2 linked regions of the Homo sapiens genome follow. The gene in region 1 interacts genetically with each later gene. Each region holds a gene or a part of one and is shown on either strand. Other genes may lie near its edges.

Region 1 (3,651 bases):
GAGAACAGATGTTTTTACAATAATATTTGTGAAATATGGAAACTACCTCCTTGGGAATTCTGGATTCATTTTACCTGATTCTAAGGCCTCATGACCTCCCAAATACATTCTACATTTCATTCTAACTAGAAAATAAAGTTCTGTGGATTTCTGGAGTGCTGTGCAAGAGATGACCAAACAAGCCACCTGGAGCTATTATTACTTCAGAAACACATCACAAAGATAAGACACAGCAAGAAATCCTGGCACAGATTTCTAGAACTGTTGTGACTCAACACCCACAGTGAAGGTATCATACTTTCTTTGAAGAAGAACAACAACCAAAGGCCTCACATAATTAGTACGAATAAACTTAAACGATCTGAAATACTTCTGGCCAACTCAAGTCAGTGAATTCAAGGAAGAAATGTAGTAAAGAAAACGAAATTCACTTCTTTTCTAAGAGTTGAAACTAACCATGTGTTTGAGACTCCTGCTTAGCTAGCCAATGCTTTCATTTATAAAGTAATTTGAATGGAGAAACTGAGATGAACCTAGTCATTCTTGAATGGTGAGTCAGAAAGATTGTATATACCCTGGATATTGCCACTGACTTTCTTTTTAAAAGGCAAGATAGACTATGTGTATGCTATGCCTCTAATCAACTAGTTTAATAGTCTGATGAAAACAGGAAAATAGGCTTCTGCAGCCTGATTTGTTCTTGGTGAACCTATGCAGCTCCTAAGGATCACTACATCCCTTCCGTTTCCAAGAGTTAATGAACTGTTTATAAAAATTTTTTTCTCTCACAGGGATTTGTGGAGATCATTAAGCTTAATATCTATAGTTCCTAGAAAGAAAGTCTAGGCTGGATGCAGTGGCTTACCCCTGTAATCCCAGCACTTTGGGAGGCTGAGGTGGGCGGATCACTCAACGTCAGCAGTTCGAGACCAGCCTGGCCAACATAGTGAAACCCAGTCTCTACTAAAAATACAAAAATTAGCTGGGTGTTGTGGCGGGCACCTGTAAAAAACATTTGTTAAATGATGAATGACCAAACAAATGAAGTAGGGTCTAGACTTTCTTTTTCTTTCTTTCTTTCTTTCTTTTTTTTTCTTTTTTTGGATGGAGTTTCACTCTGTTGCCTAGGCTGAAGTGCAGTGGCACGATCTTGGCTCACTGCAACCTCTGCCTCTTGGGCTCAAGCAATTCTCCTACCTCAGCCTCCTGAGTAGCTGGGACTACAGGTGTGTGCCACAGTGCCCCGCTATTTTTTTTTTTTTTGTATTTTTGGTAGAGACGGGGTTTCACCATGTTGCCCAGGCTGGTCACGAACTTCTGCCATGTTCTTAACTCTTCAAGGTAAATGACTTGTTCTTTGACACTTGTGAGGCAAACCTGAGCTTAGATAGTTAAATTTTTATTATAACATATCAAGTAATTTGTGAATTTATAATCAACACCTGATAAGATTTTTTTTTTGGCCATAACTCACCCCACTATGATTTACCTATCCCATCCTACCTCTTATTCTGTTCAGAGCAGTTTCCAGACTGACTCACTTCTTCAATGACAAGTCCTTTGTACAAAAGAGAGTCATCTTATTTTCATGATACACAGTGATGTTTAGTGTAGACTTATATATCCACTTGGCTGTTTAATAGCTACCTCAAATTTAACAAGCCTAACTAAACTCTTTCCCCATATTCCTCTACACTGCTTCTCTCCTTTGCTTCCTCATCTCAGAAATGGCAATTCTACCTGTTTAGTTCCTGAAGTCCAAAACCCTGGGGTCACTGATGCCTCTTCTCTGTCTGTCATATCCCTTATCTAATCAATCTGAAAAATCCTTCAGCCATTCCTTCAAAATCTCTCTAAAATCTGACCACTTCTCCCCACCCACACTGCTTCCATCCTGGTCTAAGCCACCATCATCTCTTGCCTGGATTATTGTAATACTCTCCTAAAGATTCTTCCTGCTTGTATCCTTTCTTCCTGCACCTATTTTCAATACAGCAGCCAGAGGAATGCTGTTAAAACATACATCAGATCCTGTCATTCCTCTGCTCAAAATCCTCCAGTGGTCCTCCATTTCATGCAGAATAAAAGCCAGAGTCCTTACCTTGGCCAACAAGGCTCTAGATTGGATTTTGCTTTCTTAACTCATCTCCTTCCCTCTTCCTCTTCTTACTCTGCTCCCAGCCACACTGATCTTTCTGGAACATACCAAACATTCTTCTGCTTCAGAGCCTTTGAATTTTCTGCTTCTTTTTTCCCCAGACATTTGCATAGCTCTTACTTCATTTCATTCAGGTCTCTTCCCAAATGTTCCCTTATCAGAGTACCTTCCTTGATCATCTTACAGCATACCCCATCACTCTCTCTCCCTGTTGCTCAGCTATATTTTTCTTCATACCACTTATCAAATTTAACCAACTTTATTTATTGTCTGCCTCTTTATGCTGGAAGTAAATCACTTTGAGGGCAACAGGACATATTTATTGAGGGTCTACTAGGTGCCAAGTCTGTTTCTAGGCAGTGGGAATATTAAAAAAAATCCTTATTGAATGTTTATTCAAGTACTATATAAACTGCTGTATTTACTTAGTAAATATTTGATGAGTGTATTGAATAAATATAGTATACGCTCATCAGAGTAACAAGAATGGTTCAAAGGAAAAGGAGATTTGGATTGACTTACCACTCTTTAACTCATTGGAGCATCTGCCACATCTAAAGAAATGGTTCTACAGACCACCAGGTGAAAAGTTGGAAATCTAATAAAATTCAAGGACCCCCAGGCATTCTATACTCCTAACTCTAAGGGACTCTTGGATTCCTCCAAGCTATACTGATTAAAGAAAAATGCCTGGACTGCATGAGAAACTTGGCATTGGCACCAAGAGACTAGAGTCTAGTGACTGACTAGAGTATCAGATCAGGAGGGAAGTATATAAGAAGTGCTAAAAATTAATGAGAGGCTTTGACCTTGACCAGAGAGAAAACTGTTTTGTATTAGGACAGAATAAACATTCTAAGGAAGATCGGTATCAGAGACGTTGGTAGCTGAATTTGGATAAAGTAGTTTTAGGGAAAGGAGGAAATTATTTTCTTTAAGAGAAAACTTCGGAGGTTAGATGAAGAGGTAAACCTTAGAAGCCATTAGACTTACCACTCAGAGAGGGAGGGAAGACCACGCCCACTATAGAAGGTGATATTGCTCTTACCACCTGTCTCCTCTCTTCCTTTGCAACCAGGGATTATGAAAAGTTTGATGGTTGTGGGAGTAGCCTCAGGGGAAAAGCTGAAGGTGGAGAGACTTACATGTATCAGAGGGTGAGATGATTAGGAGAGGAAAGGGTCCATGCTTCTTAGCTCCCTGCTTCCACATAGCCAGAAGACTTCTGGGAAACTGGCTACAAGTAGTAGGTGAATAATGGGTAACTTTTACTACATGGACTGCATTTCTTAGGCTTGAATTGGTCATCAATTGTATGCAAAATGACTTCTCTAGAGAATGGCCCCACTGGTCCAGTTCTCCATTCAAAGGCTCAATGCTGCTGCCACCTCCACTGACTAGAAAACCCTATCTTACTGCTCTGGCTCTTTTTTTTTTTTTTTTTGGTATTATTATGGGGTCCTTGTTCTGAGCTCTTTCTCAGATTTCAGCCA
Region 2 (3,651 bases), on another chromosome or scaffold:
CAAAGGGGCAAGGAAAGAGGCTGGCAGGAGAGAAAAAACATTTTTCCCCCATAATGTAGTGCAAGAACCTTTACAGATATGGTCTCACCAAAGTCAGCTTTGTGCAACACCACGGATGCCAAGTGCAAGCTGTCCTGACAAGGCACATTTCACTGATGAAGCATTTAATAAATTGCAGATAACCCTTATTACAGGGTTACCCCTATTTTGTAGCTGGGGAGACAGGTGCTCAGAAGGATTCAGTGGTTTGGCAAGGGAGACAGCAAGAACACTAGGGCAGTGTGAGGTGGCTGGGAGAAGGGGCAGCCGGCAAGGTCAGGCACTTCCCACGGCAGGAGACTGGCACCGAGCAGGGGCAGGAGGGAAACAGGGACACCACCTGCTCCATGCCTGCAGAATCCTACCTCCACGGGGCAAGGCAAGGGCAAACCACCCAGCCTGGGGAGCTTTGCACACCAAGGCTCATAGAGGAAGACTGGCTAGGGAGCATTCGCCGAATGGAATCAGGTAGGGCTCTCATATCAGTAGCATTCTTGGGAACACCCTCTGACTGATCTCCAGGAACGCATGCAAATGACTGCATAACATATGCAAATGACTGCATAACAACAGGTACACATCTTGGCTGGTCGGAAACACTGCTTCTGGCCTGCTTGGTAATAAATCCTAGGTGTATGGTTACGCACATTTGTCCTCCACGCCCTGATATGCAGGTGCCTCCGGCTTCCTTGTAGCTGCACCATTATTTTCCCCTAGCTAAGCAGTTAGCAGGCAAGGCTTCTCACGCAGCTGCAAGTCAGATGTGATTAACAGTATTTCATATGGAATATATTTGTGTCTGATCCATTTGCTTGATTAAATCACACTGTAGCTTAACAGCCTATTTGTTGATAATTTTTACTTATTTGAATTCAATGTAATAGCTTTTACTAGTGAAAATATATCAGCAAACATAAAACGCTGAGAAAATGCAACACAACCTAATTCAGTGTAATCAGAAATAAAAGCAGAGCATTCTAGAGAATGCTGCTAGTCTTAGACCAGCTCTGCTTATTTAATAAGCACAGATCCTTGGAGCAAAAAAGGTAGAGTATTTCTGGCTAAGTTACTGGTTACCAACTCCACGTCATACAAAGTAAACTCATCCTGGTCCCCCATATCAAAGGAGCACTCTCCTGGCAGCTCCCTGAAGGTCCCCAAGGCCGCACACATCTCTGGTTGACCCGAACGTTGCCTTCATCCTGAAGCTACAGCCCTAAAGCCTCTTTCCTCCCCTTCCCCTTCACAGCCAGCAGCCCTGGAAGCTGCCTCAGAGAGTTCATACTTCTCCCACCCACTATTAAATTGCCACTTCTGAGAAACTATTTGCCCCACATGTGAGAAACAGAATGAAATTCCAGGTAAATGGTAAGTCAGAGGATGTGAACATAGTTCCTTTTTTATTTAATGGGCTTCCACTTCATTCTTCTACTTCTGAATGCATGAAAAATAGTCTGAACAGTCTTTGCTGTGCTGGGTGTGGCCAAAGACAGTCAGCACGTGGGTTTACGGAAAAGGACGGGCAAAGCAAAAGGGGCAAAATCTCACTACGTTTAGTTGTCTTTTCACATCGTTTAAAAAAACAACAACACTATTTCGGGGATTTTTCCTGAACGTAAAGAGAGAAAGTATGTAATGAAATTCCAAGCATAAGGCATATCACAGAAATTGTGACCACAAATAAGGAATTAAGCTTAATGTCTTTAAAATGAGTATATAAAGGAGCAAAAAGAAGAACAAATTCCAATTCAGTATTCACTAATATGGACTATTTATTGTGGTTTTTTTTTGGCTGTCAGAAAATCCAATAAAATTAAGATAAACATAATTTCTTTGGGAGCATTTATTGAGAGTACCTGAAAATTATCTTAATTAGAAATGGTTTTCTTGGAAACCACCCAAGATCTAGAAGAAGAGCTCACCTATCATGCCCCAAGAATAAGCCTTAGTGGTAAACTTTCCAGGAAGCTTTCTTTTTATCCATGACTGGAGCCAATATTGTTCCTGATGCTTGCTAAGAGTCCCTTCACACTTCCTTTATTAGGATACCATGTTTTCCTTAAAAGGGATGAGCAATTAAAATGTCTTTATATGTACAGATAGATGAATTCTGATGATCTGTGACCACCAGAAATAGAAATAAATTGACAATTGATCTAATCAGACCATTTAAATCCAAAGCTGCCAATAATTTCACAGCACTTATACCCTGATAGCAAGCTTCTTTTGACTTGTTTGCCTCTATTGTTAGACATTAAGCTCACTGAGGGCAGGGATCCTATTTTTATGTCCCAGTTGCTTAGCACAATGCACACAGTATGTGCTAAAATCTTTTGAGTGTATGAACAATTGAGCAAATAGATAAATAAAACGAAATTCTCCTTCCACTCAGCAGTTCATCACTAGCAATATCCCAGGTAGAGTCTCGCATTTTGTCTTCCTCATTCACTCCCTACTGTCTTTCAGGAGAAATGCCAGTTACAGCTGAAATAGCTCAAATAATAGGTCACCAAAGAGAACCCTCTGGCTTTGGTAACTCCAAACTAATAACTGCTTCCTAAATGAAATGACTTTGCATATTGACACCTTTAGCAAGTTGGTGGAAGTCTTGAGTTAATAATCTCACTTTTAATTAGTTTAAATGTACATTCCCTGTTGGAAGAAATACAAACTAAGCTTTGGAGGTTCCACATCCCATCTTCTGAGGCTCTACTGGCGTGTGGAAAGGTTGAGTGGGGAGAAGATTCCTTTCAGCTCAGTGGACCTATGGTTCTGCTAAGTTAGGACGGTGAGGGTGGTGCATTTCCTTGCTCTCAAAGCCACCTTAGCTCATTAGGCAACTGGCATGGGTAACGTATTTTGTAGATAAGTGCAGTGACTCATAGGCCAGACACTCAGAGGGTATCCTATCCCAGCCAGGTGACGGTAACTCCAGCTTAGCAAATGGGCCAGTGTCCCCTTTCCTCATCTATGAAGTGGACTGTTGAATGAGATGCAGGTTACTCTGCCCAGCAATGTGTCGTGGTTCTTAGGCAATACTGTCAATGCCCTGAAAGCAGAGCTCTCTTGGGGATGAGGGTCTTGCGGTCACTGAGACCTGACACCTTTCTGGGGCACACCCATGGAAGTCTATGGAAGATACCCAGTTTTCCTCTAGAAACCCCCAAAATTATAGTTGCCAGAGTCAACAACTTGGCCATCTCACTTGGTTCTATGCTGATAGAGGACAAAAATATTCAGTGAATTTCATTTTAATCTGTAATTAATAAACTGTTTCCAAATATGATTAAGTAACCTGACTTCTCTGTCACTTAGGGTTTAGCAAATGTTGGGTTATGGACGTAAAATTTATTTTAAAATCAAGTATGTTCAGAGAAGTTTTGCCAAGCATAAATGTAAAAGAGAGGAAAAAAAAGAAGGAACTTTAGAAATTTCTCATTATTTAAAAAAATAAAAAATGAAAATAAATAAAATCAAGTATGAAAACATTAGGACTGAGTCTCTCTCTGAAAGCCTTTTAAATGAAGATATTGTTTTCAACTTAAAGTAACTACATTAATTTCCTGTTTATGTCACTAGACTTTGAATTTCAAATAACAAAAATTTTCAAAG

What was found. Genes that interact genetically often act in the same process or in processes that back each other up.
Region 2: changes in EDA (region 1) and RPS6KA2 together harm fitness less than expected from each alone (positive genetic interaction), as found in Homo sapiens cells (one large-scale study listed by BioGRID).

What each region holds. Positions count from the first base shown.
Region 1 is NC_000023.11:69,958,469-69,962,119, reverse strand, and holds part of EDA (ectodysplasin-A), read right to left. Parts: intron 1-3,651. UniProt on the Homo sapiens protein: Cytokine which is involved in epithelial-mesenchymal signaling during morphogenesis of ectodermal organs. Functions as a ligand activating the DEATH-domain containing receptors EDAR and EDA2R. May also play a role in cell adhesion.
Region 2 is NC_000006.12:166,620,601-166,624,251, forward strand, and holds part of RPS6KA2 (ribosomal protein S6 kinase alpha-2), read right to left. Parts: intron 1-3,651. UniProt on the Homo sapiens protein: Serine/threonine-protein kinase that acts downstream of ERK (MAPK1/ERK2 and MAPK3/ERK1) signaling and mediates mitogenic and stress-induced activation of transcription factors, regulates translation, and mediates cellular proliferation, survival, and differentiation.